Linked DNA regions of Homo sapiens: regions 2 and 3 are each linked to region 1. The links come from fine-mapping of genetic effects on gene expression. A gene starts in region 1. Each other region holds a variant in brackets. All regions are shown on one strand. Distances are between the middles of the regions. Region 1 holds the start of TRIM69 (tripartite motif containing 69). Region 2 has its middle 64 kb from the start of TRIM69. Region 3 has its middle 43 kb from the start of GOLM2.

What was found.
Region 2: its variant is fine-mapped to the expression of TRIM69 in whole blood (INTERVAL, PIP above 0.99).
Region 3: its variant is fine-mapped to the expression of TRIM69 in coronary artery (GTEx, PIP 0.94).

What each region holds. Positions count from the first base shown.
Region 1 is chr15:44,732,310-44,740,494 of GRCh38, reverse strand. TRIM69 (tripartite motif containing 69) reads right to left here and starts at 3,967. Exons shown (of 7, transcript NM_182985.5): 1 at 3,785-3,967. The coding sequence starts at 3,790. It also overlaps the pseudogene RNF4BP.
Region 2 is chr15:44,796,374-44,804,558 of GRCh38, reverse strand. No RefSeq gene overlaps it. Among named protein-coding and RNA genes, the nearest start is that of TRIM69, 64 kb to the right of the region's middle. The variant C/T (reference allele first, on the strand shown) is at 4,112.
Region 3 is chr15:44,242,069-44,250,253 of GRCh38, reverse strand. No RefSeq gene overlaps it. Among named protein-coding and RNA genes, the nearest start is that of GOLM2, 43 kb to the left of the region's middle. The variant G/A (reference allele first, on the strand shown) is at 4,869.

The DNA of each region.
Region 1 (8,185 bases):
TCTAAATTCTTTTCAAAGTTTTTAACTTCTTTGCCTTTGGTTTGAATTTCCTCCTGTAGCTCGGAGTAGTTGGATCATCTGAAGCCTTCTTCTCTCAACTTGTCAAAGTCATTCTCCATCCAGCTTTGTTTTGTTGCTGGTGAGGAACTGCGTTCCTTTGGAGGAAGAGAGGCGCTCTGCTTTTTAGAGTTTCCAGTTTTCCTGCTCTGTTTTTTCCCCATCTTTGCGGTTTTATCTACTTTTGGTCTTTGACGATGGTGATGTACAGATGGGTTTTTGGTATGGATGTCCTTTCTGTTTGTTAGTTTTCCTTCTAACAGACAGGACCCTCAGCTGCAGGTCTATTGGAGTTTGCTAGAGGTCCACTCCAGACCCTGTTTGCCTGGGTATCAGCAGCGGTGGCTGCAGAACAGTGGATTTTCGTGAACCGCGAATGCTGCTGTCGATCATTCCTCTGGAAGTTTTGTCTCAGAGGAGTACCCGGCCATGTGAGGTGTCAGTCTGCCCCTACTTGGGGGTGCCTCCCAGTTAGGCTGCTAGGGGGTCAGGGGTCAGGGACCCACTTGAGGAGGCAGTCTGCCCATTCTCAGATCTCCAGCTGCGTGCTGGGAGAACCACTGCTCTCTTCAAAGCTGTCAGACAGGGACATTTAAGTCTGCAGAGGTTACTGATGTCTTTTTGTTTGTCTGTGCCCTGCCCCCAGAGGTGGAGCCTACAGAGGCAGGCAGGCCTCCTTGAGCTGTGGTGGGCTCCACCCAGTTCGAGCTTCCCGGCTGCTTTGTTTACCTAAGCAAGCCTGGGCAATGGTGGGCGCCCCTCCCACAGCCTCGCTGCCGCCTTGCAGTTTGATCTCAGACTGCTGTGCTAGCAATCAGCGAGACTCCATGGGCGTAGGGCCCTCCGAGCCAGGTGCAGGATATAATCTCCTGGTGCACCGTTCTTTAAGCCCGTCGGAAAAGCACAGTATTAGGGTGGGAGTGACCCAATTTTCCAGGTGCCGTCTGTCACCCCTTTCTTTGACTAGGAAAGGGACCTCCCTGACCCCTTGCGCTTCCCGAGTGAGGCAATGCCTCGCCCTGCTTCGGCTCACGCACGGTGCGCTGCACCCACTGTCCTGCGCCCACTGTCTGGCACTCCCTAGTGAGATGAAACTGGTACCTCAGATGGAAATGCAGAAATCACCCGTCTTCTGCATCGCTCACGCTGGGAGCTGTAGACCAGAGCTGTTCCTATTCAGCCATCTTGGCTGCCCCCTCCGTGTGTTTTTAAAGTATGTTTAAAATATATAGCGGTTACCAAGGCAGGGCAAAGAGGAACGGGAAGTGACTGATAATGGGTATGGAATTTCTTTTGGGGATAATGAAAATGTTCTGGAATTAGATAGTGGTGATAATTGTACAACTTTGTGAATATGCTATAAATCACTGAATTGTAAACTTCAAAAGGGTGAGTTATATGATATGAAAATATATTTAATGTTATTAATTATTGATATTATATGATTGACTGGTTTTATATGGTTAATTCATCTTGCTAGCTGAGGGTTTGCCAATTCCCCTGACTTTCAATAATATATCCTTTTCTGTAAAACAAGGGATTAATTATATTAGCTAATATTTACTGAGCATTCACTGTGGAAGAGGATTTACATACATTATTTCATTTAATCTCAGAACAACCCTATGAAATACGTATTATTACTACATATTTTAAGGAAACTGAAGCTCAGATTGCTTCAAGTATCTTCCCAGAGTCACAATTATTAAGTAGTGGGTCTCAGATTTGAACTCTTTATTTGACCCCAAAGCCTATTAACCACTGAGTCAGCAGAGAGCCCATCAATATGTTTTGTGGAATTGAATTTATTAAATGGATCAAATTTGTGAAGCAAAATATCTGCAATAACTTCCTACTGCTCTAGAGGGAGCTATAGAATTGGAAACCAAATGAGAGTCTAAAATTTCTGGACCTGGAAATCTTTTAGGAAACACATCTACTGCCAGCCCCTTTTAGGGGAAGAAGTCTAACCTTAAGGCAGAGAGAGAGAAACTCGAGTCAGGAATTGATATTCATCCTTATAAAGCCCTGGCTGGCAGGAATCACTTTATAAGAAAGCACATCAGCAGGTCACGATGGCCCAGGCCTGTAATCTTAGCCTCACTTTGGGAGGCTGAGGCAGGAGGATCACCTGAGGTCAGGAGTTGGAGACAAGCCTGGGTAACATGGTGAGACCTCATCTCTACTAAAAAAAAAAATAATAATACAAAAATTAGCCAGGCGTGGTGGTGCGTCCCTGCAGTCCCAGCTATTTGGGATGCTGAGGCATGAGAATCACTTGAACCCTGGAAGCGGAGGTTGCAGTGAGCTGAGATGGTGCCACTGCACTCCAGCCTGAGCAAGAGAGTGAGACTCTGTCCTAAAAAAAAAAAAAAAAAAAAAAGAAAGAAAGAAAGTATGTATCTTCCTCCTTCAGTTCACTGTGCACATTCTCAAAGAGCAGAGAAAAGGCAAAGAGCTATGAAGTCCATGGAAGCTTGCATAAGAAATCCTTAATTTTTACCAGAGATTTTTTTTTCCTGAGAAGTTTTGTGTTGTAAATTTTTGAAATCATAGTTAAGATATCTAAGGAGAGTTCATTTGTTGCTTTTCAACCTTTATTCCTTCAAAGTAATTTTTAAACTTTGATGGGCAGTTTTTATGAAGAATTAACTTTGAGAGCAGAAAAATACAGTTCATCCACAGAGACAAACTATATAGCACAGCCAGCTTAAACCTAAGAGCAAGACACACTCCTGCTTCACGAGTCAAGCCATTTGCACATAAGAAGGCAAGATTCTGAACTTTCTGACTTCTTGGAGCTTCCCAGAGTTGAAAGAAATTTTAAGCCATTTAATTCACTCCTTTCCAACCTCTGCCTGAACATCTGAAGTAATGGGAAACTCACTATCACACAAACAATTTTTTTACTATTATGGAAAAGTGTCTATTTTCACTGACTTGGCCTTAAAGTAATAAGAATATAGTAGGTTTAGGCAATAGTGTTTATTTTTGCCCTAGAAATTATAAACAAAATGCTTATAGCCCTGTTTGCTTCAATAGCTAAGCACAGAGATGAGTAGCAGCAAACCTAAAGGTCCTATGATAGAGGAAATTAGAAACTGATCTTAATGATTAATATAATGAAATTAAACTTTATAAGAAGTGGAAACTAGTGGAAATGGATGATAACTCAGGATTCAAGGGCCCCTGAAAAACCCTTAGTGAGTTTTTCAAGCTTTCATGTAGTAAATAACCATTTTCTTTTGTTTGACAATCAGGAAAACACTAAGTTCAGAAGAACATAACTTCCTTTATTTTAGCTCTGAAGAGGTCTTAAAGGAAGAATTCAATTAAAAATGTTTACTATCTAAGTATCAACTCTGCCTTAAATATAAAATAATCAAATGTGAAGGTATTGTAAGCAAACCAAGTTATACATAATAATTTTTAAATCTAAAATAAAATGATTACATTGATAATGAAAGTAAATTGTATATAGTATATAGTTTATTTTTTCTCAAAATGTTTTGGTGGATTTCATTACTTTCCTACCAGCTTCTCTAGTATAAATTATCAGTTATTCCAAGGCTTGGAGAGAGTATAGTAGCTACCAGCTGTCACAAGTTAAATACTTCCCTTCATGAATTTCCTTTTGTGCTCCTAAATCCATATCCTCTTCTATGATCCTGTTTTCCACACTATTCCTAGAAGCCCTGCTAAGTTAAAAAAAAAAAGGGTCACTCACCTCCATGAAGCTTCAGCCCACCAAGGGGCAGAGGCAGGCACTTGAATCAGAGCTCAGCAGGCCCAGGATGGCTGCAGACTGGGAGTCAGGGACCTTTTAGTTTTCAAGGAATGGGCTCAGAGCATGATGGAAGAAAGAAAAGTTCAGGAGCTGGAGAGAAGCAGCAAGGCCAGAGTGAGGTCTGGCAGATTCCGTGACAGTTTGTCAGTTAACTTTGATCATCATTTGCTTAAGAGAAAGAGAAACCCTCATTAGAATACCCTACCTGCCCAACTTTTCTTTTGTAGGAGACAAGGGCAGCTCATTTAGATTCGAGTTAGTGGTCTAATCTTAAGGTTCATAGCTCCCCATTTCTGGACTAAGGATGCTCTATGAAAGAGGAAATACACGTCAGCAGCAGCCTATATTAAGCCTAACTCATGAAAAATAACCACCTCACCCCTGTTCATGATCCCATCACACCATCAAGACACCAGCTGAGTGGCTTTAATAGAGAGCTAGTTCACCTCTCATATTCCAATGAAGCAGCCCTGATTTTATCTCTGAGACAGTAACACAGGCCTGGGAAACACCAGGCCCTAAGAAAGCAGGATGAAAAAAGCTTCATTTCATACAGCTTTCTTCAGCAGTTTTAGCTCGCAGAGAGATGTACCAACACTGTGCTCCTGAGTGACTTATAAAGAGCCACCACAGAGCCAAACAGTTTTTCTTACAGTAGTTCCTCTAACTCAATATGATTTCTTGCACGTCTAGCTCCTGCCTAGCTGTCCAGACTTAATGACCACAGCTCTTTCCCCAGTGTTTGGGATCGCCCAAATATGTCACGCTTCTGCAGCTTTGTATATGTTGTCCCTTCGGATGGGAGTTTCCCTTCCCCCACACCCCCGTCATTATCTCTTTACTAAACTCTTCCCTAACCACCCCCTCATCCCCAAACCAAGCTTTACCCACTTCCCTGTCTCTTGTAGAAGATATTTTGCTGGCTCTATACCAGAGGTTACCAACCTCAGCCCTATTGATATTTTGGGCCTGCTAAGTCTTACGTTAGAGGGGCTGTCCTGTGAATTTTAGGATATTTAGCAGTGTCCCTGGCGTTTACACACTAGATGCCTGTAGCCACCCCCCCCCCACCAAACCCAGTCATAACAAAAATGTCTCCAGTCATTGCCAAATGTCTCCTGGGGGCAGGGGTTGGAATCACTCCCCAGTTGAGAAACACAGCTTTACTCCCTTCCTTCCTTCCTTCCTTCCTTCCTTCCTTCCTTCCTTCTTTCCTTCCTTCCTTCCTTCCTTCCTTCTTTCCTCTTTCTTTTTTTCTTTCTCTTTCTTTCTTTCTCTCTCTTTCTGTTTTCTTTCTCCCTTTCTTTCTCTCTCTGTTTCTTTCTCTTTCTTCCTTTCTTTTTCCTCTTTCTTTCTCTCTTGCTCTCTTTCTTTCTTTCTCCCTTTCTTTCTCTTTCTCTTTCTTTCCTTCTTTTCTTTTCTTTTTTCTTTTCTTTCTGACAGGGTCTCACTATGTTGCCTAGGCTGATCTCAAATTTCTGAGCTCAAGCTGTCCTCCCACCTCAGCCTCACAAAGTGCTAGGATTACAGGTGTGAGCAACACCACGCCTGGCCTAGTTTTACACATTTCTATAGCACCCTAGATCTTTGTACACGTGGCTTTAACAGAGTGTATTCTAATTGTTTGATTGCATGTCTGCCCCTCCACTAAGTTGTGAACAAACCACAGGATAGGTAGTACTGTATCTTGCTCACCTTGGCAATACATGGCATTTGTTAGATCAAAACCTTTGTCAGATAAATGTCTATGAAATGCTGGTGATCACTTAGTCAAAAAAGTAATTTTGTTTCATCTTGATTGTTTTTGTTGTTGGCTAAAACATTTGACAATGCTTAGTATAGCTGATTTTACTAAAGCCAGCGCCTGCACATTTTTGAACCTTTAGCCTAGGGGTAAGAGTACTGGCCTAGAAGATGGAAGCCTTGTCTCTCACCACCAGAGCACTGAATAGCCTTAGCTAAGACATTTAACTCCTATGGGTGTCAGTTCCTCCTTCTTTAAAATGTGAATTCCTAAGACCCCCTTCTGTCTCTAGAAGCCTGTGATTCCAAATCCTATGTAGCAAGAAGTCTCAATCTTCACAAAGAGTACTTCAAGTCTTTTTTTCACTATTTAAAAACAGTGTCCAGGCATGGTGGCTCATGCCTGTAATCTCAGCACTTTGGGGGGCCAAGGTGGGAGGATCACCTGAGCCCAGGAGTTCAAGACCAGCCTGGGCAAGATGGCGAGACCCTGTCCCTACAAAAAATTTAAAAATTAGCCAGGCATGTTGGCACGTGCCTGTGGTGCCAGCTACTCAGGAGGCTGAGGTGGGAGGATCATTTGCGCCCAGGAGGTCGAGGCTGCAGTAAGCCATGATCATATCCCTGCACTCCAGCATGGTTGACAGAGTAAGACCTTGTCTCAAAAAATAAAAATAAAAAATAAAAAAATTCCATTGCTGTAAACGAGACCCAGAGTGATGGTTAATTTTGTATGTCAACCTGACTAATATACCCAGTATAAAAGTTGCTTAAGCAAGAATGAAATTTATTTCTCTCTTAAGTAAAAGTCCAAACTTCTATAGTGGCTCTGGTTTGCAAAGTTGTCAGTCTCCCAAATTCCTTCTCTCTACTTTGTTAACACAGAACTCACAACATCCATAAATTTGGAGAGGAGACTTTATTTCTTATAAAGCGTTAAAGGCCTGCAAGGTGGCCATCCCACAGGCCAGGAAGTACAATCTCTGGCAAAGACCAGAGACAGGCACTTCAAAGGAGGAGCAGGGGTAGGAACTTGATGCTGAATAGGTTGGCTAAACATACATATTCAACAGGTTACAGGAGGAGCTATGAATAATTATGAAGGTCATCCTGACTCATGCTTATTGAACAAACATGCATGTAACATACAACCCATGTTCACTTTGAGGTGGAGACTTAACTCTTTTTGTTGTTGTTATTGTTTGTTTTTTGTTTTTCGCGACGGAGTCTTACTCTGTCACCCAGACTGGAGTGCAGTGGCGCCATCTCAGCTCACTGCAATCTCTGCCTCTGAGGTTCAAATGATTCTCCTTCCTCAGTCTCCCAAGTAGCTGGGATTACAGGCGTGCACCACCACACTCAGCTAATTTTGTATTTTTAGTAGAGACGGGGTTTTGCCATGTTGGCCAGGCTGGTCTCAAACTCCTGACCTCAAGTGATTCACCCACCTCAGCCTCCCAAAGTGCTGGGATTACAGGCGTGAGCCACCACGCCAGGCCTAAGGTGGAGACTTAACACTTAAATGCATAACAATTAGACCCTATAAGTCAAAATGCCTGTTCAGGACAGGAAGGAACAAGGGTGCTTAGCCTCTATAAACTGGCCAGAACCAGCCCATAGTCAGTGGTCTTCTTATCAAGAGAAAGTGGCTGGGTGCGGTGGCTCACGCCTGTAATCCCAGCCCTTTGGGGGGCCGAGGCAGGCAGGTCACAAGGTCAGGAGATGGAGACCATCATGGCTAACACGGTGAAACCCCATCTCTACTAAAAATACAAAAAAATTAGCGGGGCGTGGTGGTGGGTGCCTGTAGTCCCAGCTACTTGGGAGGCTGAGGCAGGAGAATGGCATGAACCCAGAAGACAGAGCTCACAGTGAGCCGAGATCGGGCCACTGCACTGCAGCCTGGGCGACAGAGCAAGACTCTGACTCAAAAAAAAAAAAAAAAAAAAATTGCTTATCTCAGCTGGTGCTTGTTTAGCTGCTAAACAAAAAGAAAAACTGACAGGGCAGAACTCCGTCTCAAAAAATAAATAAATAAATAAATAAATAGAAAATCTTGTGGCAGTTAGAACATAGTTTATTCTTTAAGTGTAGGAGTGCATGACATAACACTTGCCTGGCATGACCTTAGATCTTACGAATAATTTGTTATTGCCACAAAGGGTCTATTCTGTCAGCCTTATGATCTTTATTTTGACATTAATGCTGGTCAGTTGTTGTGTCTAAACCATAAAAGAGACGGAGATATAATGAAGCGTGTCTGACCTCCCATCCCGTCATGGCCAGGAACTCAGTTTTAAGGTTTTTCTGGGGTCACTTTGGTCAAGAGGGGTTCCATTCAGTCAATTAGGGGGCTTAGGATTTTAGTTTACAACTTACTTCACCATCTCTAGGGTGTTGTCTTTATTTATGTGGTCCAGAATGTCCACATGTGGCCAACTAAAAATTGATGACTATAAGAAAGGGAAAGTTGCTTTAAGGACGACCCCAGTATCTGGCACACTCTGGCAACTGAAGTCCAGAGCTGAAGCATAAAACCAAAGGAAACAAAAAGCAGTCTCAGAGCATATGAGAAATCAAAGAGTTTCTTATATACTG
Region 2 (8,185 bases), 64 kb before region 1:
CAGTATAAATCCTTCTTTGTCATCCTCGTTGCACTTCCATGTATTGTTCCTCTTATCTCACTGTCCTGAGATTGTTTTCATCTCTGCCTTCCCCTGGGATTTCTGAATCAGCATCAAAGAATCCTGGAAGTACCTAACAGGACATGTAACTGCCCCTAAGTCATGAGCTCCTGTTGGTAGAAACTATAACTTGTTTGTTTTTGAATCTCAATACTATTTCACACCATATTGGCATAGAGGACCCAATAGATGATAGTTGGACAGAAGTAAAGTCACTCTGCAGGGCAGAGGCACAAGCTCAGAGAGAATTTATTTCCTCCCCATCTTTTCTCCTGGAAGTCCTCCTTCTCACAGTGTTCCTGCTCCCTGGCACTGAGCTGAGGTATGCAACGAAACCCATGGGACCTGTCTGTATAATGGAGATGCATACACCCTCCAGGCCTTTGCACATAGGCTAGGTCCCTGTAGCACATCTGGAGGACAGGGTCACTGAGGCCTGGCTTAATTTAGCTGAGCCACTCCAGGAGGAATAATGGTAGCACTGAAAGTCTACTTTTCTGCCCATTCTGTTAACATCCTGCTGGCCTGCTTTCTGGGGCTCTTGACTTTGTAGCAACCAAAAGACCTTTTCAGAGACTTGGGGCCTGATCAAGACCATTGAGCAAATCCTCCTTCCCTTTACCAGTGGAGCAATCAGAAGGGTGAAGGGCCTGGAAGAGCAATAGAGCATCAAGCCAATTGGAGTTCAATTACTGGCCCTGCCATGTAATGGCAGAATAAGCTTGGGGTCGTCATTTAACTTCTTTAACACTCAATTTTTTTTTCCACCAGTGAAAGGAGAACAAGAAAACTTATAGCATCATTGTGATGGTTAAAGTAACATATTTAAAATGTCTTTCATGGGGATTTCAATCTTTTATTGACCATATTTGTTGGCAGTCTAGTGAAGGCTATGGGCTCCTAGAACAAGTACTTGAAACTCATAAAACAAAATATGTGGAATTACAAAGGTAACACTATAATACATTTATCAAAATGTTTTTTTAAAATGTGTGTTAGAATGTAATATGTTTCTTTGTTCATGTATTAAAAATTAAGAGATTAAGCTGAGGGTCTGATAACTACGATAATTTTGAGGTAAAGAAGCACATAAATGATATTTTGATTTACCTGCCAAACTGTAACACTGTACATGAAAATATCTCATTTCTATTGTTGGCAAAATCACATTGTGGGTTTATAACCTACATTTGTAAATGAAGAAAATGCCAACTACTTGTTAAAGAGTGAAAATAAAGATGAATTTTATTCCTTCCAAGTTGATGGAACCCTGAACCTCTTGCTTAATGAAAAAACAAACACTTGATAGTAGTTAATTCCCTTTCTTCTAATTTTCTCTTTCTGATGCCTCCTCTTATATACTGTTTTCAAATTTTTTTACGTCTTCCTAACCAAACATGACCCGAGGAAAGGGTCTGACATCAGACATTTGGCCTATGGGGTGGATAAGTGTGTATTTCCTTGCTTTCCTTCTCAAGAGCTTTCCTCATTGTGAAAGAAGCGGAAGGAATTTCAGCATAGGAGCAAGGTGGACCTCCCCAGCCCCCAGGAAAAAAAGTCATATCACAAAGGGAGCAGATGAAATACTTTCCCAAACTTCGGGCTAGTGTCAAGGATCAGCTGTCGACTTGATTTCTAACCACTATCCTGGGTGGCTTGCCTTTCTCCTGAGTGATCAGGGTACAGAAGCCCGGAGAAACAGGACTCTGCTCCTTTTGGTCCTGCTTTGGTTCCTGCTCTGTTCCTGCTGTATTAGGGTGAAAGCCCATTGAGTGTGTCTCTTCCCAACTCTGTTCCATGATGTCTTATTTGTAACTTGAAACAAGCGTGGTGGGAGCATTTACACCATGGAAATTGGCACATGATACACATCAAGGCTTCTCACCTCTAATTAAAATCTTTCCTGCATCTCAGTGGAAAGCCAGTTGTGAGACATTTGTCAGTGCATCACTGCCTGTACCTTCTGCTTCCTGTTTGGTAATTCTGCTTTGACAAAATTGGTCATTCTTTCTGTTTACCACTCTCTGGTGCATGCACATTTTTGTATCCCCAGAAAGGGACTTTCTATACTTCTAGTGTTCCCTGATTTTGCACTGGAGTCAGCAGATGACAACAATTTTTCTCTTTGCCAAAACCTAAAAGAAGGACCCCACTTCCCTGCTTGGTGAGAGGGTTTTCCTTGTTCATGGTTTTCTGTCATTGAGGCTAAACAAGCAGGAGCCATTATAACTTGTGATAAGAAACCATAAAAAGTACAGGTGATTTAGGATAAATGCATCTGACAGGGGTGTCAAGCAGGAGTCAGCAACTTTCTCTAAAAGGGCCAGATAGTACATACTTTAGGCTTTGCAAAAGACACAAAATGATATTATGTAGGTGCTTATATAACTGTTTAAAACATAACCATGTAAAACTATTCTTAGCTTATCAACTATGAATAAACAGGCATTGGTCTATGAATAAACTGTTTGGCATTGGTCTGTGGGCTGCAGTTTTCTGATTGCAGTGGAAGTCTGACTGTTGTGGAAGACTGACCTGGGGGATGAGCAGTAAGGCAAGGTGGTCAGGTAGGAGGGTGGTAGATAAAAAAGACCAGGACAAAGTCTTGGATGGTCACAGTGGGGAAGAAGGAAGGAGGAGGAAGAAACTAGAGGGAACTTAAATATCTGATTGGATATGATGGATAAGTGAAAGATGAAGCAAATGTGATCTGGAGAGCTGGCTGCAATTTGTAACGTTGTCTTTGGGATTCACAAACATATTAGGATATTAAAAGCTTTGAAAATTCCTGCAGCAAGTAAATCTGTCTGCTCAGTCCAGCATTTCTCAAAGTTATTTATATATTGTACCCTTCATTCATGGACTACCTACTAATGCCCCCAGTGAAGTAACGTATCATGGAATGTACTTTAGGTTTCATGGGCTTGCTCTATAGTTGCGTAATCCATGTTGTAAGAGTGTGTGTTCCTTGAAAAGAGAGTTAACAAATTTACCATTTGTGTGCGTGTTTGTGGGGGAGGGTTATGAAATATGAAATACAACTCCTGTGGAAGGTGGTATATTACAAATTAATGTAATCTGAATGGCTGGAAGAATTACGCAGAGATTCAACAGGCCAGATTGGTTTAATAGTTTTTAAGTTATGGATATAATTAATGAAAATTGAGAGTGCTAATAGTTGTTTTTAAACTATTTTAAACTAAAAACAACTACAGTTTTGTCTTGTTTTTTAATTATACTTCAGGTTTTAGGGTACATGTGCACAACGTGCAGGTTTGTTACATATGTATACATGTGCCATGTTGGTGTGCTGCACCCATTAACTCGTCATTTAGCATTAGGTGTATCTCTTAATGCTATCTATCCCTCCCCACTCCCCCCATCCCACAACGGGCCCCGGTGTGTGATGTTCCCCTTCCTGTGTCCATGTGTTCTGATTGTTCAATTCCCACCTATGAGTGAAAACATGCGGTGTTTGGTTTTTTTGTCCTTGTGATAATTTGCGGAGAATGAAAAAACAGTAAATTCACGTGGCCCTTTAAAACCTTCATTTTCTTTTCTTTTTTTATTTTTCTTTTATTCTCTCTCTCTTTTTTAAAATTTTAAGTTCCAGGGTACATGTGCAGGATGTGCAGTTTTGTGACATAGGTAAACGTGGACCATGGTGGTCTGCTGCACCTATCAACCCATCACCTACGTATTAAACCCAACATATATTAGCTATTTTTCCTAATGCTCTCTCTCCCCCTTCCCTCTCCCCCACAGGCCCCAGTGTGTGTTGTTCCCTTCCCTGTGTCTATGTTAAAACCTTCATTTTCAATCTTTTCAGTATGGTTCTTTTATTTATCTGTCTTTGAATCCTCCTTAACAAAATTAATTGTTCCTTTTTTATTTATTTATTTTATTATTATTATTATTATTTTTTTAGATGGAATCTCGCTCTGTCGCCCAGGCTGCAGTGCAGTGGCACAATCTCGGCTCGCTGCAAGCTCCGCCTCCCGGGTTCACGCCATTCTCCCGCCTCAGCCTCCCGAGTAGCTGGGACTACAGG[C/T]GCCCGCCACCACGCCCAGCTAATTTTTTGTATTTTTTAGTAGAGGCGAGGTTTTACCATGTTAGTCAGGATGGTCTCGATCTCCTGACCTTGTGATCCACCTGCCTTGGCCTCCCAAAGTGCTGGGATTACAGGCGTAAGTCACCGCACCCAGCCCATTTTTTTGTTTCAAAAAAATTTTTTTTCTAAGATACTTTTGTTATAGCATACTCCTTTCTTTTTAAAAAATCCACAGCAATTTTTATATATCTCTTTTAGCACTTCAGATTGCATAGGGTTTATCTGGGTATTCTCATGGTTTGTTGGACTAAATTAGTAGAAGACACTTATATTTCTTTTCCCAGTCCTCAGCAGAATGCCAGACATATCATATGTTCTCTTGGATTAATAAATTAATAAAAGTTTTGGGAAAGTGACCATTCCAACCTATATCTGAAATACAAATAAAGTTAGATCCTGTATCCATCAAGGTCCAATCAGGAAAACAGAAACCATTCCAGTTATTTTAACAGGGATAATTTAATATAGGGAATCGAATTGCTAAACAGGTATTTAGAAAACTATAACTCCAGAAAGATATGCAAACTACAGGAAATATCTTCCACCGTTAGAACAGGGGAGCAAAGGGTAGAGTGGATTAGTTGAACCTAGAAGCTTGGATGAAGAGCCCCATAAAGTTGAGAACAAGACCACGGAGCAGGAGGTGCCACCTGGCTGGTGCTGGTGTCTCTGCAGGGACTCCAATGAGGCTGATTCTGGAAATTAGAAAAAAAAAAAAAAAGACCTAGACCCAAATGCTGCTGCTAGGGTGAAGAACTATTGCTGAGGGGATGTTGACAGACACAGAAAGCAAAGAGCAAGGGGCAAATCCCTTTGCCATCCTCTAGGTTTGCAGTCTTCCTCTAATACCCTTTATTGGCAGAGCCTAACAGGAAACCAGATGGCAAAGGATAAATTTTATTTGTGGAGTCCAGCCTCAAAATCATGTAACAGAGTAACAGGTGAGTGGGTGGTGCTAAGATACAGTAGCTTAATAACCAGCCTAGTTCCCAACCTACATGTATAGTCAATTTCCAAGTGGCCTGACTCTGGATGACTCAAGAGGGCTTTTCCTCCTCCCAAGAGCTATTATAGTCACAGGTATATTTTTGAATCTTTCCTTTTTTTCTTAGACAGCAGAAGCTGTTCATTTTAGTAGAGAATATCATGGTTGTAATTGCATTTCTCTTATAACTCAGAAAGGGTTAAATAAAGAGAAAAGATATTTTGGCAAAGAGCAAAACTATTTGGCAACTTGTTCTAAAGGGTTTTTCAGCGTCCCTAGATTCAGCTGTTTCTAATCCTGTGATTATATGCTTCAATTTCCCATTTTAAGTACCAGAGATTAAGTGGTAACTCCTTTATTGCTGATGGCGGTGCTTAGTGGACAGCTGGGGGATGACAGGGCTGTGTGCTGAATCCAGATGCACAAGAAACAACAGGAAAGGGGCACTCTGACCGTCCAATGGCCCTGTCTCCTGAGGGGGGGTAAGGTGAGGCTTCTGTTTAGATGTCTCAGTGGTCACTGCAGAATCAGCTTTTTCTTTTCTTTTTCTTTTCTTTTTTTTTTTTTTAACAGATTAAACAGTTCCAGTGTGGAAGTCTGACTTAGGGCAATGTGTGTAGTGTGAGGAAAAAGGATGACAGCTGGTTTTGAATCCAGCTCAGTCACTTGCCAACTGGGTGGCCCTGAGTAGTCACTTCACTCAACTCTTCACTTTATCATTGATAATAACTACCTGTCCTGTCCTCTTATTTGGCTCACTTTGAGGATCAAAAGAGATATGACTAAATATGAAAACATATTGCAAAGAGTAAAATGAAATAAAAACAAGGAATCGATCATGATGGTGTTGGGCTATTTCAGTTTGCTTGGTTTTTGACTCAGAAGCATGAGAGAAATACATTATCCCCAACAATTCCTTTCTGTTATAAAAAAGTTACAGTGTGTACCTTTCTGGGCTTGTGTTGTGTATTTACTTCCACATAAATGTTTATCTCTAAAGTTATCAATAAAGCTCCCAGTGTGGAAGTGAAAATAAACCCAGAAAAAATATCTTTGTATTCCCAGGCCAATTCAGTTTTCATTATTTATTATATTCAGTTTTTCTTGAGGCCAAAATGGAGTAGAAATCTCTAAAAAATTTAGTTTGAATCTAGAGTCAACTAATAATAATACTAGTTAAAGCAGTAATAGCATTTATTACATGCTTGTGTGCTGGAAACTTTTAAGCATCTATACTGTGTTGCCTCCTTAAAATAACCCTATGAGGTAGATTTTGTTTTTATTGTCATTTAATATAAGGAAATGAAGGCATAATAAAACTCGCCTAAGGTTACAGATAGAAAATAATGGAGTAGGGGTTTGAACCCACATAACGTGATTTCTAAGTCTGAACCTTTAGCTACTCTATTATATTCAAGAAACACTCCTTGTTTAATTATTTGTATAAATTAAAGTTGTCTCTCAATGGCTTTTATTTGTTACGTAGAAATATCATTTATTAAGCACATACAAGGTGCTGGATAGGATTCTAAGCATTCTCTATGCATTATCTTATTTAATTCTCACAAAATTTTATTATTCTTAGAAACTAAAGTTCAGATAATTTAAGCAATTTGCTCAGTCAGGTTCACACTTTTAACAAGTACTGAAGCTGATATTTTAGTTCAAGTCTACATGACTGTCAAATCTCTTCAAGCAATAAGTTACGTATCTCTTTGCTAACAATATATATTCTTCCTGTTTCTCATGGAGGCATCCCTCAAACTTCTCCAAACCTCAGTGTAAAGCTCAAAACAATGGAAAAGCTGAAATAAAGCTAAATGAAGATCAGAAATCATGCAGTGTCAGCAGTAGGAATATATACTAGGAGTCTGGAGTGAGGGGTAATGAAATGGAGCCTAATGCTCAAACTTTGAAATTCTTAAAAGACAAGACAGAAAAAGGGAAATCCAATGGTTTGTCTAGTTATTATTGTCAGACGAAAACACATAGACCAGTTGTGTAGAAGACATAAACTTCCCCTGACATTCAAAGCCAAGAGAAATTTATCATGAGAAGTCTTATATTTGGACAACAGTTATAGTATATAGGGAATTTCTGCCATAAACAGCATGGTGTAAATGAATACTTGGTGAAAGATATCAATTAGAATTTATACCATATGTGAGACAAGGCATTTCCAAAGTGCATTTGCAGGAGAATGTGTTGTATTCATCTCTGACATCCTTATCAGAACTCACATTCTAGTGAAACATATCAATTAATGTCCTCAGATCTGTTATAATAACAACATGGAAAATGGATTTACCAACCTCACAGAAACAACTGAAGGTATGTGCCAAGAATGAATCTCTTACTTCTTCAAATATCAGAGTAAAAATTTTACAACAAACTTAAAATTTGTTAAACTTCAACTTAATGGATGGTCTCTCTTTCCTTCTTGCAAGGTCTGACTGAGATCTAAGCCTTGCTCATTAATTTATTCATTTAGCATTTAATTTGGTCCCATATTAGTTAAGCCTCAGGCTTGACTAGCACCCAGGTAAATGAAAAAAGGAACAAAAACTTGATCCAGAACGCACTGGATATCAATGGCTTGTAGTCCTCTCATGGACTTCAAGTGTGACTAAGTCAGCTGAGCCCTTACTTGTTAGTGTTGTGCTGGAACAGACAGAGAGAAAGTAATTGTAAATCATCCAAGAAGTGAGAAAGAGATAGAGATACAATCAGGAGACAAGTCTGAATCTCTGAGATAGACTGGTAATGTCTCAAGGCCACTGAGATAATGATGCCTAGAACTGGGCTTATAAATGCCAATAGCATAACATTCTTGAGCTTGGGACAGTGGTGCTTTAGCAAACAATAACCTCTCCTACTTAGTCCAGATATTTAAATTCCTCATGTGGCATCACTTGATGGATAAAATTGCAAATAAGCAAGTTAAGGATAAATTGAGAGGCCCATTGGATCCTGGCCATGGGTACAGATGTATGATCATGGCCAGGATCTAGGGTTTTGCTCAAATCTGA
Region 3 (8,185 bases), 490 kb after region 1:
CACAAGCTCCCGTATCTGTTTTTAAAAACGTGGATTCTGCCTCAAGGAGCTTACAGTCTACTGGTATTTATCTTTCCAAAGAGATGATTTAATACATAGGGACCATATTTCAGTTTTACTACACAAAGTATTAAAACCTAATAGGACTTTCCAGAAGGCACAGGTCAGCCATAGGAAGCAGACTTAATTTGTGTATCATTTATATACAATTTAAATTTGTTATGAATTTTTTTTTTGACAGGGTGTCGCTCTGTCACCCAGACTGGAGTACAATGGCGCGATCTCAGCTCACTGCAACCTCCGCCTCCTGGGTTCAAGCAATTCTCCTTCTCAGCCTCCCAAGTAGCTGGGATTACAGGTGCCCACTATCATGCCCAGCTAATTTTTTGTATTTTTAGTAGAGACGGGGTTTCGCCATGTTGGCAAGACTGGTCTCGAACTCCTGACCTCAGGTGATCCACCCGCCTCAGCCTCCCAAAGTGCTGGGATTACAGGCATGAGCCACCGCATCTGGCCGAATTTTTTAAATTTCTGAAATAATTTTAGGCTTACAGAAGAGTTGCAAAGATAGAATAAACTGTTCCCATATACCCTTTATTTCACATGTTAACATCTTACCGAACCATAGTACATTTATCAAAACTAGGAAATTATCATTGGTACAATACTATTAACTACAAAATAGACTTTATTTGAATATCACCAATTTTCACTAACGCTCTTTTTCTGTTCCAGGATCTGATCTAGGATCCCACATTGCGTTTGGTTGTCACATCTCCCTAGTTTCCTTCAATTTCTGATGGTTCTTCATTCTTTCCTTGTCTTTAACTACCTTGACACTTTTGAATAGTACCAATCAGGAATTTGCTAGAATTTTCCTCAATTTGGGTTGGTCTGGATGTTTTCTCATTATTAGATTAAGTTTATAAATTTGGGAGAAAAAATATCACAGAGGGAACATGCCCTTCTCAATGCATCCTATTAGGAGTACATGCTGTTGACATGTCTAATTACTGGTGTTATTAACTTCGATCGTTTGGCTAAGGTGGTATCTGCCAGGTTTCTCCACTGTAAGGTTACTATTTTTTCTTTGTAACTAACAAATATTTTTCAGAAGATATTTTGGGGCTATGCAAATATCTGGTTTCTCCTTAACACTTTACCCATTAGTTTTTTATTTTTTAAACCAACTTTTCTTTTTCTTTCTTTTTTTTTTTGAGATGGAGTCTTGCTCTGTCACCCAGGCTGAAGTGCAGTGGTGCAATCTCGGCTCACTGCAACCTCCGCCTCCCAGGTTCAAGCGGTTCTCCTGCCTCAGCCTCCCAAGTAGCTGGGACTACAGGCGTATGCCACAACGCCCAGCTAATTTTTGTATTTTTTGTAGAGACAGGGTTTCACCATGTTGGCCAGGATGGTCTCGATTTCTTGACCTCGTGATCCGCCCGCCTCAGCCTCCCAAAGTGCTGGGATTACAGGTGTGAGCCACTGTGTCCAGCTTTTAAATGATCTTTTCTTTTCTTTTTTCATTGCTTTTCTTTTCTTTCTGTTAGAGACAGGGTCTTGCTATGTTACCCAATCTGGTCTTGAACTCCTGGGCTCAAGTGATTCTCCTGCCTCGGCCTCCCACAGAACTGGGATTACAGGTATAAGCCACCACACCCACCCTAATTAAACTTTTTGTTTGAGAATAGTTTTAGATTTAGAGAAAAGTTGGGCTGGCCTAAATAAACTTTTCATTTTAGAATGGTTTTAGATTTACAGAAAAGTTGCAAAAATAGTACATAGTAGCCATTTTCCCCTATTGTTAATATCTTCCCTGTACATTTGTCACAACTATTAAACCAACATTGATACATTAAACTATAAACTCTGTACTCTATTTAGATTTCACTACATCCACTCATTTTAACATTCAATTGATCTTGCCTGTAGCAATTACTATTGTGGTTTTCTGGTTTTTTGTTTTTGTTTTTGTTTTTTGAGATGGAGTTTCGCTCATGTTGCCCAGGCTGGAGTACAGTGGTGCAACCTCAGCTCACTGCAACCTCTGCCTCCTGGGTTCAAGCAATTCTCCTGTCTCAGCCTCACGAGTAGCTGGGATTACAGGCAGCCACCACGATGCCTGGCTAATTTTTGTATTTTTAGTAGAGATGGGCTTCACCATGTTGGCCAGGCTGGTGTCGAACTCCTGACCTCAGGTGACCCACCGGCCTTGGCCTCCCAAAATGCTGGGATTACAGGCATGAGCCACCGCACCCAGCCACTATTGTGGTTTTCTAACTGTAATTTTCTGTTTCCCTCATTTTTTCTACACTGTTAACTGGAATTCTTCTGCAAGGAACAATTGTTCCTTTTCTCCTATTTATTTATTTAGTCCTTCATTTATATCTGTGTGGACTCATAGATATTTATTATATTCTTTGGCTTATAATACTATCTATCTATCTACCTATCTATCTATCATCTATCTATCTATCTATCTATCTATCTATCTATCTATCTATCATTTTAAGAAGAGTCTAGCTGTGTTGCCCAGGCTGGAGTGCAGTGGTGCAATCTCGGCTTACTGCAACCTCTGCTTCCTGGGTTCAAGTGATTCTCACATCTCAGCCTCCCGAGTAGCTGGAATTACAGGCATGTGCCACCATGCCTGGCTAATTTTTGTATTTTTTTTTTCTAGTAGAGATGAGGTTTCTCCATGTTGGCCAGGCTGGTCTCAAACTCCTGGCCTCAAGTGATTTGCCCACCTCGACCTCCCAAAGTGCTGGGATTATAGGCGTGAGCTGCCACCATGCCGAGCCCATTATATGGTTTTGTTGATCAAATTATTCCAGCTTTTGCTATTGGGAGCTTGTTCAGGTTAGCTTCTGTGTCCCTTCGATACACTTACATCCCTTTCTTTTCTTTTTAGATCATTTTTATAAATCTACGTAGACACTGTCATCTAGGAAGCTGTTTATTAATTAAATTCTTTAAATTAATTAAAATTATATTTTTATTTAATTTTCTTCCTCAGTTGACATTTTAACTTTTTTTTCCTTATTCTTATCATCCAAACATTATAATTGTCCCAAATTACACTGAAGGATCAAGGCATGACAAATATACCAACAAGGGGGAAAGGATGGGACTTAGGTGGACAGGGCTTGTTTTTTTTTTTTTTTTTTTGGCACAAGTTACCTGACCTCTCTAAGTCTCAGTTTACTCATCTATAAAATGGGTGGTAATAGTAATAATATCTGTATCATGGACTCACAAAGATTAGATGATTAAGGTGTCATAAGATGGAAAAGTACTTTGTTAACTATAAAGTTTTATATAAATATAATAGTGTTATCTTTGTATCATAGCACAACGGCGCTGTATCCTATCCCTTTAATTATTTGATAATGGTTGTTAAGAAATTGTTTTTGTGATTACACAGAGAGGCCTATTTAAGGAATAACAATGAACAATTGAAATTGTACTAGCCAAAACACTAAGCCTGGAACCAGATTAATGTATTTACTCAGATGCAGCCTCATTTCTATGACTCCATTCATTCAGAAAACCCAAAGATTATACTGGTAATAAGCGTGACCTCTCTCTTTCAGACATAAAATGAAAGTTTTGTCTCTATTAAAATAAAAATAAGCCAGGATCAATTTTTTTTTTTCTCCAAAGCCATATAATGGTTCCTAAATCAACACAAACTATTATGTAGAAGCAATTCATGTTGAAGAGTCTGCTGATTTGCTCGGTGTCATCCTCCTGTTCATCAGTCAGGAGATTCATGGAGTACCCATTACATACGAAGAATACATGCTGCAAGCTCTACCTGGGAAGTAACAGATTTAGTATCTGCTCTTGAGGAGAATGATACCTACACTATCATTTATGGAACCTGGAGCTAAAGAAAAAAATAGTTTTAAAATGACTTTCTCAGGCTGGGCGCAGTGGCTCACGCCTGTGATCCCAACACTTTAGGAAGCAGAAGCTAGAGGATCGCTTGAGCCCGAGGAGTTCGAGACTAGCCTGGGCAACAAGGCAAAACCCTGTCTCTACAAAAAATACAAAAATTAGCCAGGCATGGTGCTGTGCACCTATAGTCCCAGTTACTTGGGAGGCTGAGGTGGGAGGATTACTTGAGCCCAGAGGCGGAAGTTGCGGTAAGCCGAGACCACACTACTAAACTCCAGCCTGGGCAACAGAGTAAGATCCTATCTCAAAAAAAAAAAAATTATTTTCTCGGCCAGGTGCAGTGGCTCACACCTGTAATCCCAGCACTTTAGGAGGTCGAGGCAGGTGGATCACGAGGTCAGGAGATGGAGTCACAGTGAAACCCTGTCTCTGCTAAAAATACACACAAAAAAATTAGCCGGGCTTGGTGGCACCCACCTGTAGTCCCAGCTACTCGGGAGGCTGAGGCAGGAGAATCCCTTGAACCCGGGAGGCGGAGGATGCAGTGAACCAAGATCCTGCCACTGCACTCCAGCCTGGGCGACAGAACGAGACTCCGTCTCCAAAAAAAGAAAAAAAAAAAAGACTTCCTCAGATCAAACTGGAATCTAAAATTTAAGTGAGTATAATAATGTTTGGGAGGCCGAGGTGGGTGGATCATGAGGTTAGGAGATCGAGACCATCCTGGCTAACACAGTGAAACTCCGTCTCTACTAAAAATACAAAAAATTTGCCAGGCGTGGTGGCAGGCGCCTGTAGTCCCAGCTACTCGGGAGGCTGAGGCAGGAGAATGGCGTGAACCTGGGAGGTGGAGCTTGCAGTAAGCCAAGATCGCGCCACTGCACTCCAGCCTGGGCCATGGAGCGAGACTCCATCTCAAAAAATAAAAAAATAAAAAATAAATAAATAATGTGAATACAAGGCTGGGC[G/A]TGGTGGCTCACGCCTGTAATCCCAGCACTTTGGGAGGCCGAGGCGGGTGGATCACGAGGTCAGGAGTTCAATACCAACCTGGCCAAGATGGTGAAACCCCGTCTCTACTGAAAACACAAAAAAATTAGCTGGGCATGGTGGCGGGCGCCTGTACTCCCAGCTACTTAGGAGGCTGAGGCAGAGAATTGCTTGAACCCATGAGGTGGAGGTTACAGTGAGATAAGATTGTGCCACGGCACTACAGCCTGGGTGACAGAATGAGACTCCATCTCAAAAAAAAAAAAATTGTGACTACAGAGATATTTATGTGGGAGCCAGGAAAGGACAGAGTGAATTGAAAACCAAGATCAACAGAGAAGTGGTTTTCCTCTTTTTTGAATGGCCTGTTTCCTTATTTCTGTCTCTCTCTTTTTGAGAGTCTGATGTCTCATTGTGCACTCAAATTTTAGTGTTTGACTTGACCCAATTCTTGATGGATAGAGAGCAGCAATGGAGACCAAATGTGTTTTACGGTGCAATGTTTGAAAGAAATTCAACATAGTATATCATTAGTACTTTAAAAAATGTTTATTAATGACAGACAGGGCCCCTTCTACGGTTTAGCAAATTTAAACTAGCCCAATAATTTATCATCAAATTTTTTGTGTATAGTAAACCCAAAATTTGGGCTAACACAATGATACCTCCAACTTCTGATTCTAGCCTCTCTCTGGGCCCTCTTCCCTCCTCCATACAGTCTTGCAGTGGCATTAGGACAGTTTATTTTAAAAGGATCTGTAATACTATCTAGAAAGCAAAGAATACAGACCAGGAACTCAAACTGATTTATCAGAGAGGGCCAGAGATTCTCCTCTCTCTCAACTCAGTTCTGTTCTCATAGGCTTTGCCCCTAGTTTTTATTATTTTCACCACAAACACTATAGGATTTGATCTTCAACTTCTCAGATTGTCTGTAATTGTCACATATCTGTCTTAGTCAGAAAAGTGACCTGTAGGCTGGGTGTAGTGGTTCATGCCTATAATTCCAGCACTTTGGGAGACTGAGGCGAGAGGATCTCTTGAGGCCAAGAGTTCAAGATCAGCCTGGGTAACATAGTGAGATTCCATCTCTACAAAAAATACAAAACTTAGCTGGGTGTGGTGACACGCGCCTGTAGTCCTATCTACTTGGGAAGCTAAGACGGGAGGATCACTTAAGCCCAGGAGTTCAGGGCTGCCACTGCACTCCAGCCTGGGCAATAGAGTGAGATCCTATCACTAAAAATAATTTTTTAAAAAGTGACCTATGGTTCACCCTTTCCTTAATTTCTATGGTTGTAGAACAGTAACCGGGCTGCACTATGACATTTCAGCACTAAGTGGAGCCAGACGCCCAACTGCCTTAAAATTTACAAATCAGCAGAAGAGTACAGCCTAGTTACCTGGAAAACCTGACTTGGCCATTGTGTTTACAGATGGACAGAGCTGGAGTTATATGGTACATCACATATATTTGAATGCCCAAGACTCAAGGAATAGATACCATGGAAATAATTACTTTAGCTCATCTCACATGGTTAAAGAAAACCTATCAAATAAACACAAACTAACCAAACTGGGTATTTTTTTGTTGCGGGGGGGGTGTTTGTTTGTTTGTTTTTGAGACAGGGTCTCTCTCTGTTGTCCAGGCTGGAGGGCAATGACACAATCTCGGCTCACTGCAACCTCCACCTGTGGGCTCAAGCAATCCTCCCACCTCAGCCTCCGGAGTAGCTGGGACCACAGGTGTATGCCACCATGCCCAGCTAATTTTTGTATTTTTTGTAGAGACAAGGTTTCACTATGTTACCCAGGCTAGTCTCAAACTCCTGAACTCAAGTGGTCTGCTTGCCTCAGCCTCCTAAAGTGCTGGGATTACAGGTGTGAGCCACTGTGCCTGGCCCCAAATTATTTTGTTATGTCATGATTCCCAACCCCTCTGCCCTTTGTTGCAAGCTTCTATAAGAAAGACATGTAGCCTCTGGTGGTTCAGATTCTGATCTGCAGATGAGAATGAGCCAATTTGGGAAAGAGCCCAGCCTAACAGAGGATTTGTGATAGCATTTGGGTGATGTTTTTGCAAGCAAATATGTGTTTGGCATAGGGACAGTTTTGCCCAGGGCAGAGTATTGAATTCTGAGAATAGGAGCCAGTTATGGGGTATGTATGTGTAGGAGGCCGATGGAGGGTTAATAGAGTCACAGATCATGGCAGTTGGGTAAAGGATGAGAAATTACTTAATGTTCAGGATCTATACCCTAGGGAAAAATAAAAAGAAATTACTTAATGGGTACAATATATGTTATTTGGGTGGTGAATACCCCGAAAATCCTGACCATTACAAAGTCTATGCATGTACTGAAATTACACTTATACCCCATGAACTTATGTAAATAAATTTTTTCTTTTTCTTTTTTTTTTGAGACAGAGTCTCATTCTGTCGCCCAGGCTGGAATGCAGTGGCTCGATCTCACCTCACTGCAACCTCCGCCTCCCAGGTTCAAGCAATTCCCTGCTTCAACCTCACGATTAGCCGGGATTACAGGCACCGGCCACCAAGCCCGGCTAATTTTTGTATTTTTAGTAGAGACGGGGTTTCACCATCTTGGCCAGGCTGGTCTTGAACTCCTGACCTCGTGATCCACCCACCTTGGCCTCCCAAAGTGCTGGGATTACAGGCATGAGCCACCGCACCCAGCCATAAATAAATAAATTTTTTCAAAACAAACAAACAACAGCAACAAAAAAAACCAGAGTCACAGATCATTCTTACCTAGAAACTCAGCACAGACTGAGCAAACCATTCAACTCTTGGGAGACCCTGAGATCCTAAGTATAAAAGATGAGCTAGGCCGGGCGTGGTGGCTCACGCCTCTAATCCCAGCACTTTGGGAGGCCAAGGCTGGCGGATCACGAGGTCAGGAGATCGAGACCATCCTGGCTAACACAGTGAAACCCCGCCTCTACTAAAAATACAAAAAAAAAAAAAAAGCCGGGTGTGGTGGTGGGTGCCTGTAGTCCCAGCTACTTGGGAGGCTGAGGCAGGAGAATGGTGTGGACCCAGGAGGCGGAGCTTGCAGTGAGCCGAGATCGCGCCACTGCATTCCAGCCTGGGCAACAAAGCCAGACTCTGTCTCAAAAAATAAATAAATAAATAAAAATAAAAAAGAGATGAGCTTCTGGCCCAGCACGGTGGCTCACGCCTGTAATCCCGCACTTTGGGAGGCCGAGGCAGGTGGATCATCTGAGATCAGGAGTTCAAGACCAGCCTGGCCAACATGGTGAAGCCCCGTCTCTA